Linked DNA regions of Homo sapiens. The protein of the gene in region 1 purifies or fractionates together with the protein of each later gene. This does not show direct contact. Each region holds a gene or a part of one and is shown on either strand. Other genes may lie near its edges.

The links.
Region 2: the proteins of MMP24 (region 1) and BLTP3A purify together in Homo sapiens (affinity purification with mass spectrometry; one large-scale study listed by BioGRID and IntAct). This does not show direct contact.

What each region holds. Positions count from the first base shown.
Region 1 is NC_000020.11:35,229,427-35,233,454, forward strand, and holds part of MMP24 (matrix metalloproteinase-24 preproprotein), read left to right. Parts: intron 1-4,028. UniProt on the Homo sapiens protein: Metalloprotease that mediates cleavage of N-cadherin (CDH2) and acts as a regulator of neuro-immune interactions and neural stem cell quiescence.
Region 2 is NC_000006.12:34,868,583-34,872,082, reverse strand, and holds part of BLTP3A (bridge-like lipid transfer protein family member 3A), read right to left. Parts: intron 1,230-3,500; coding exon 967-1,229; intron 500-966; coding exon 391-499; intron 265-390; coding exon 158-264; intron 1-157. UniProt on the Homo sapiens protein: Tube-forming lipid transport protein which probably mediates the transfer of lipids between membranes at organelle contact sites. May be involved in the retrograde traffic of vesicle clusters in the endocytic pathway to the Golgi complex.

The DNA.
Region 1 (4,028 bases):
TTTCTAAGTGACAAAAACATCATCCTTAATTTGACAATGACTCCATTTTAAATGTCTAATACATTGTCCAAAACTTCCTGAAAGATAGACAAATTATATCCACTGCTTCTCTCAATAATTTGTGCCTAATTATCCTTTCACTGAACACTAGGGGATCACTTGATTGACACCTTATAGAAATATTGTTGCTTTTAAGCCGGCAGATAATATTGCTTACTCCTCTTTCTGTCTTTTAAGCCCTCTGGAGTCTGTCTCCACCCTACCCCTCCATTAGCAGGCCATATTTCCCACTGCTTATTGATAACGCATCCTTACTCGACAAGCTCATCTCTCCTTTACCCTTAGACAGGCTGCCCATATTTCTCTGGACATTGTCACATAGTTACTTCTGCACCCCTACCCGTTCATTTGAAACCTTTCCTTAAAGTTTCAGCTCAAGCCCTGCTTCTCCAATAAACTTTCCCTGATTTCTCTAGTTGTCATTTTCTTCTCTCTTCTCCAGGAAACATTTTTAAGGCAGCCCCAGCCAGTTTGTCATTTATTTATTTACTTATTTTTATTTATTTTATTTATTTATTTTTGAGACAGAGTCTCACTCTGTTGCCCAGGCTGGAGTGCAGTGGGGTGATCTCGGCTCACTGCAACCTCCGCCTCCCAGGTTCAAGCGATTCTCCTGCCTCAGCCTCCTGAGTAACTGGGATTACAGGCATGCACCACCACGCCCGGTTAATTTTTGTATTTTTAGTAGAGAAGGGTTTTCGCCGTATTGGCCAGGCTGGTCTCAAACTCGTGACCTCAAGTGATCCACCTTCCTCAGCCTCCCAAAGTGCTGGGATTATAGGTGTGAGCCACCGTGCCCAGCCCTATTTATTTTTTAATAGTTAAACATTATTTTTGGGGAGAGGAAGGTTGGTTCTTAGGCAAGGCTTTCTTGACCAAAATGTTTTATTTTTTTACATTGAACAAAATCCCTGATTCTCAATGCTCATCATTAAGTATTCAATGAGCAATCAATGATTCTACTCTTTATCCTTTATCTCAAAAAGTTACATGGATCTGAAATAGGCACTCATGGGCATGGGGCTCCAAGCCCCCTTCTAAAACCCTTCTTAGAGATGGGACTCATTGCCAACTTGTACTTTCTTCGGTAGAAATCAAGCCTATTCCTTTTGGCAGTGGTTCCACAAGCTCACCCTTGAGTTCCTTCAGAACTCTTTAGGTAGTCTTCTAATGGTAGTGGCATCAATAGAAAGAAATTGAGAGATAACCGTGACCTTAGAGATCACCCAGTACCTACTACAGCACTTACTAGATACTTCTTTAATTGAGTTGCCCAAGGGCACAGAACGTGATAGTAGATGATTCGGAACTACTGTAGAACTTTTCCTAGTTCTCCTGATTTCTAAATTGAAAGCATTTTTCATCATCATTGATTTTTCATTTCGTATCTATGATCTTTCATTACCAAGCCAAAAAATTTTTTTATTCAGTCTATCTTCTCCTTTGCTTTATTTTTCTCCACACCCCACAACCCCCGACCCCTTGAAGCTCAACAAACAGGATCCTATGCTTTCTTTAGTCTTTCTTTTTTATCTTACACATCAAGAGGTCCCACTGATTCTCTAACTGGCTTCCTTCATTTGATTTATTAAAAGCACCACTTCTCTTATTTGCTGAGTAGAATGCTCCTCAAATACTTTTCTGGCCTTCCTAGTTTCCAACTTGATTCTGAGGAAGATCAGAACAGGATGAAAGAGACAAGTCAATTATCACAGGCCACATGAATAAGTAACAGAGTGTGACTCCTAGACCCAGGACTTATGGATTCCTGCCCTTGAGACTGGTTTTGAGTGGTTTGTGCTGAGGAGATGGAGAACAGTCTTTGGTTTGAAACTGTAGTCAAGGAAGATTGACCCCGAATGATTGGAGGGGTAAGAGAGTGACCTACTAAGAAGCACCAACGTATTCCCAAATCAAAATATTCTTTCACTGTGATCATGGCCTCCAGTATATCTTCATTCTTGTCTGGAAAAAAAAAACTCACTATTAGGAAGTTTTCCCTTTTACATAAGCTGGATCTAGTCTACTGTATTTTTAATTCATTTTCTCTTATTTTTACTGTGGGGTTTCATATTACTTTAATAGCTGTTTATATTTGTAAGGTGCTTTGCACTTCCCATATGCCATGTATGTGGCCCTATTTGGTCCTGGGAACAATACCATGAGGTAGATAAGGAAGACATTGTCCTCATTTTATAGGTGAGTAAAAGGAGACTCAAAGATGATGTGAATTGCCTATCATCTTGTCTAAGGACCCACACATAGCTCATAAACATTAAAGCAGGCCAGGCATGGTGGCTCACACCTGTAATCCCAGCACTTTGGGAGGCCGAGGCAGGTGGATCACCTGAGGTCAGGAGTTTGAGACTAGCCTGGCCAACATGGTGAAACCCCATCTCTACTAAAAATACAAAAATTAGCTGAGCCTGGTGGTGCATGCCTGTAATCCCAGCTGCTGAGGCAGGAGAATTGCTTGAACCCCGGGGGCAGAGGTTGTAGTGAGCCAAGACTGTGCCACTTCACTCCAGCCTGGGCAAAAGAGTGAATCTCCGTCTCAGAAGAAAAAAAGAAATTAAAGCAAATAACAGAAGCTAGGTTTTCTGTTCTTGGGCTCAGCACTCTGCCCACTATACAAGTTTCCTGTTCTGGATTATTATTGTAGCCTTTTAGCCAGTCTTTTCTACTTTCAAGTATGTCCTACTCTGGTCCTTGAAAGAGGTATTTTTAGAACTAATAAAAGTAAATTATAATTGTACCCAAAAGACTAATCTTAGGAAATGCCTAGCCCTATAGTATGGTATTGTTTGAACTCAAAACAGGAAGAACAAACCACAGCCAATATCTCCTCAGTACCTAGCACAGTGCATGATACATTCTGGACATGTGATAAATATTTTAAAATTAATTTTGTTATCTAATCCCCATCAACTTCTTTGAATAGTGCTTGGCACACAAAAGTCGCTACCTTTTGTGAAGAATAAATGAATGCATGCTAGAGGTATAACAAGGTGCCGGGAAGCACCGAAGAGGGAGGAGATGAGGTTCCCCAGTTGAGGTTCGGGAAGCCAGAGAATGCTTCAGGAAGAAGGTGGTATCTGAGATGAACCTTTGAGGGAGGAGAATGATGGAGAAGGGTGAGTGGGGCAGTCCAGGCAGAATAAAAAATATGAACCATGGCTCCACAAAAATGCATGGCATGTTTAGGAAACAGTGGATAATTTGATGTGCCTGAATCATCAAGTTACTTGCTGTTTCCAGTAAGAGTGTATAAGGAGAAGAGGCTGGAGAGGGAGACTGAGAGCAGATTGTGCATTTGGCTTTTGTCCAAAGGCTGAGGGGAGTCATTAAAGGTTTCTGAGCAGAGGAGCGACCTGCTCAGAGCCATGTTGAGGAAGTGGAGGGACTGGAGTTTGTTCCTGAGTTGTTCTGGCTGCTGGCTCCTGCCCTGAATGCTTTTAAGCTTTCTTAGCACAACTTAGGGGCGAGTACTCATTTTAGGGCTCAAGTGACCCGCCCACCTTGGCCTCCCAAAGGGCTTACAGGCATGAGCCCTGGCCTTGCCTGTTAGCAGTAATTTAAAGACTCAATTCTATGCCACAAACACTTACGAGGCATAAAGGGCACCAAAAGTACTTGGCCAGAAAGTCAGGAGTTGTTCTTTACTCCTTTCTCTCTTTATACATATGTATGTATAAAGATCATTTGAGGCCAGGAGTTCGAGACCAGCCTGGCCAACATGGTGAAACCCTATCTCTATTAAAAATACAAAAAAATTAGCTATGCATGGTGGTACATGCCTGTAGTTCCAGCTACTTGGGTGGCTGAGGCACAAGAATCACTTGAACCTGGGAGGCGGAGGTTACAGTGAGCCAGGATTGAACTACTGTACTCCAGCCAAAGCAAGACTCTGTATCAAAAATCAATCAATGAATCAATCAATCAGTCCACTCAGGAGTCAGTTATATCTG
Region 2 (3,500 bases), on another chromosome or scaffold:
CAGCACTTCTAGAAGCCGCTGCTAGGTGACAGGAACCCAAAACACCCACATGCAGGCAGCACACGCAACCTTTTTGCCCCCCAACCCCGGGTTTTACCAGTTTCACAAGTATAGCCCCCAAGGGTTATGGGCAGCTACTGTTCTGTTAGGTCCTCACCTGCTGTTCAAAAACCTCTCCTGTGGGCACCAAAAACACCTGTTCTTTTGGGGGCTGTCTCTTCTCACTTTTAAGTACTTCAGCTGATGGTTTGTCCTGAGCAGCAGCTGGAGAAAACAAGTAAAGGTTCTAAGTGACAAACTGCTGCCAACTCCCAAACAGTTCCTAGGTGTCACCTATTCACTTTTAGGAGAAAAGGCAGAGAAACCAACAGGCTGACAAGCCTGACTCACCGCCTATGTGGAACACACCATCATCACTCCTCTTCAGCACAACATGTTCCATGGCCAGAGTGATGGGGATGGGGCCTGGAGATGTTGGATAGATGGGGGGGATATCATCCTGCAGGAAAGAGAGAAACCACATGATGCCCCCCACCAGCTCAGAGCAATTTAACACAACCCATGCTCCCATCATTCAGCTTGAAGCAGCTTTATGCCAGTTTGTCCATACATTCTTGGAAGGTATAAGAGGCATGGCAGATTCTCCCATCTAGAGATGGTGAAACTGAGAATCAGATAACCTGATGGCTTGCACATGGTAATGCTGCATGCCAAAGACAGGGTTAGGGTTACAGACAAGGTCTCCTCACCTGAACCCTGGCTTTTCTGACAGCAACACACATTTATATACCACTATAACACTGACAGAGAATGCAAATATGTATTAATATTTCCTCACTTGATCCTCACCATATTTTACAGTGAAAAGGGAAGAGGTTAACAGGTGTCACTGCTTCCTTGCTTGACAAAGTCCAGGGCAAAAACCAATGTGCCCTTACATTGGCAAAAACCAAAGGTTCCTCACACCTTTAGGGTGATGCTGGAGTTCAGAAGCTCAATCTGCATGGGGACTACCACCGGGATCTCCTCATCCTCCAAGAAGGGCCCCAGGCCACTGAGCACTGAAGTGAGCAGCTCGAGGTCACAGCCATGAAGCAATAAATGTAGGAAGCCATTTTGTGAGGCCAGGGGGGAATGAACAGCTGCTCCAGGCCCCACCTCAAAGCGAAGGCCCACAGCTGGCCTGATGTGGCCAGTCTTCAAAGTTGAGGATTCCTGAAAGCATGTACCTTTGTGAAGAAAGACAAGGAAGACAACTAATTAACGGCCAGGGAGTCTTCTAGGCACCTTATATACCAATATTCATAATAACCCTATGTCAAAGGAATATCATCATTCTCATCTGACTGAACGAAGTCACAGAGAATAACTTGCCCAAAATTACATAATTAGTAAGTAGCAAGGAGAGGATCTGAACCCAGGCAGTCTGATTGCCAAGTCCATGGGCTTAGATACTTTGCTATAATGCCTTGCAAGGTGGAAGAGAGATTAAGGATTGGCCTTGTTATGAATGTGAGACAGTGGGCTAATGGCCAAGGAAAAGCTCTTAAAACACAGGACTCCCAAACTCTACTAAATTTGAATGTCTCCTCCTTTCTCTAAGTCTTGGTTTTCTCATCTGTCACTCATAAAGCAAAGCAGGATCTATGCTAATCTCTCCAAAACTCCAAACAGAACACTCTCAGGTGTAGCCAAGGATCCTGTGGAACAACTTACACATTTATGGAACTGCAAATTGGTACAAACATTTTGCATAACAATTTGGTATTATCTAGTAAAGGTGAAGTTGTGCCTACCCTAATGATCTAGAAATTATATTGTCAGAAATACAACCCCAGGGAAACTCTCAAACATATATTCCAAGAGACATGTACAAGGATGTTCACAGCAACCCTATTTGAAACTGGAAAAACAAACAAACAAACAAAAACTAGAAATAACCCAAATGGCTGTCCAGAATAGAATAAAGAAGTAAATAGTATAATGGGTACAGGGATATTTTGGGGGTCATGGAAATGTTCTAAAATTGGGTTGTGGTGATGGTTACACAATTATAAAATTGTACACTTAAAATGAGTGAATTTTATGTTATGCAAATTATACTTCAATAAAGCTGTTTTCAAAAAGCAAAAAGTGCCGTGCACAGTGGCTCATGCCTGTAATCCTAAGACTTTGGGAGGCTGAGGCGGGTGGATCACTTGAGTTCAGGAGTTCAAGACCATCCTGAGCAACATGGTGAAACCCTGTCTAAAAATACAAAAAAATTAGTCAGGCGTGGTGGCAGGCACCTGTAGTCCTGGCTACTGAGGAGGCTGAGGCATGAGAATCACTTGAACCCGGGAGGCGGAGGTTGCAGTGGGCTGAGATTGCAACCACTGCACTCCGGCCTGGGCAACCCAGCAAGACTCTGCCTCAAAAAAAAAAAAAAAAAAAAAAAAAAAAGTGGTGTATGTATACAATAACATTATATAGTAATGAAAAATGAACAAATTATAGCTAATTCAACAACCTAGATGAATTTAAAGAATATCATGTTACTTGAAAGAAGCAAATCACAAAAATAGTACAATCTATTATTCCATTTAGAAAAATGTGAAAAAAGCTAAAAATACATTAATATAAACACGTGTACAAATTATAAAGTAAAGCAAGATAACAATGAATACAAATTCAGGATAGTGATTACCTATGACAGGTGAGGGACAGAAGGAGGTTCAGGAGAGGGACTCCCAGAGACTTAAAAGGTAATGGTACTGTTGTATTAATTAAACTAGGTGGTGGGGCCAGGCATGGTGGCTCAGGCCTGTAATTCCAGCACTTTGGGAGGCTGACATGGACAGATCGCTTGAGGCCAGGAGTTTGAGACCAGCCTGGTCAACATGGTGAAACCCCATCTCTACTAAAAATACAAAAATAAGCTGGGCGTGGTGGTGTGTGCCTGTATTCCCAGCTACTCAGGAGGATGAGCCAGGAGAATTGCTTGAAGGAGGTGAAGGTTGCAGCACGTCGAATTCGTGCCACTGCACTCCAGCCTGGGCAACAGAGCAAGACTGTGTCTCAAAAAAAAATTAAAAAACAATAAAACAAACTAGGTGGTGAGTAAATGGGTTCATTGTATTGTTATTATTTTATGCCTTACATATATTTTATAAGTGTTCTTCAGTATCTACTCAATATTTTAATGTTTTTTAAGAGACAGGGTCTTGCTCTATTGCCCAGGCTGGAGTGCAGTGGTGCAATTATAGCTCACTGTAGTCTCAAACTCCTAGACTCACATGATCCACTCACCTCAGCCTCCCAAGCAGCTAGAACTATAGGCACGCACCGCCACACCGAGCTAATTTTTTTTTTTTTTTTTTTAAACAGAGTCTTGCTCTGTCACCCAGGCTGTAGTACAAGGGCGCGATCTCGGCTCACTGCAACCTCCGCCTCCCCGGTTCAAGCAATTCTCCTGCCTCAGCCTCCCAAGTAGCTGGGATTACAGGTGCCTGCCACCACAC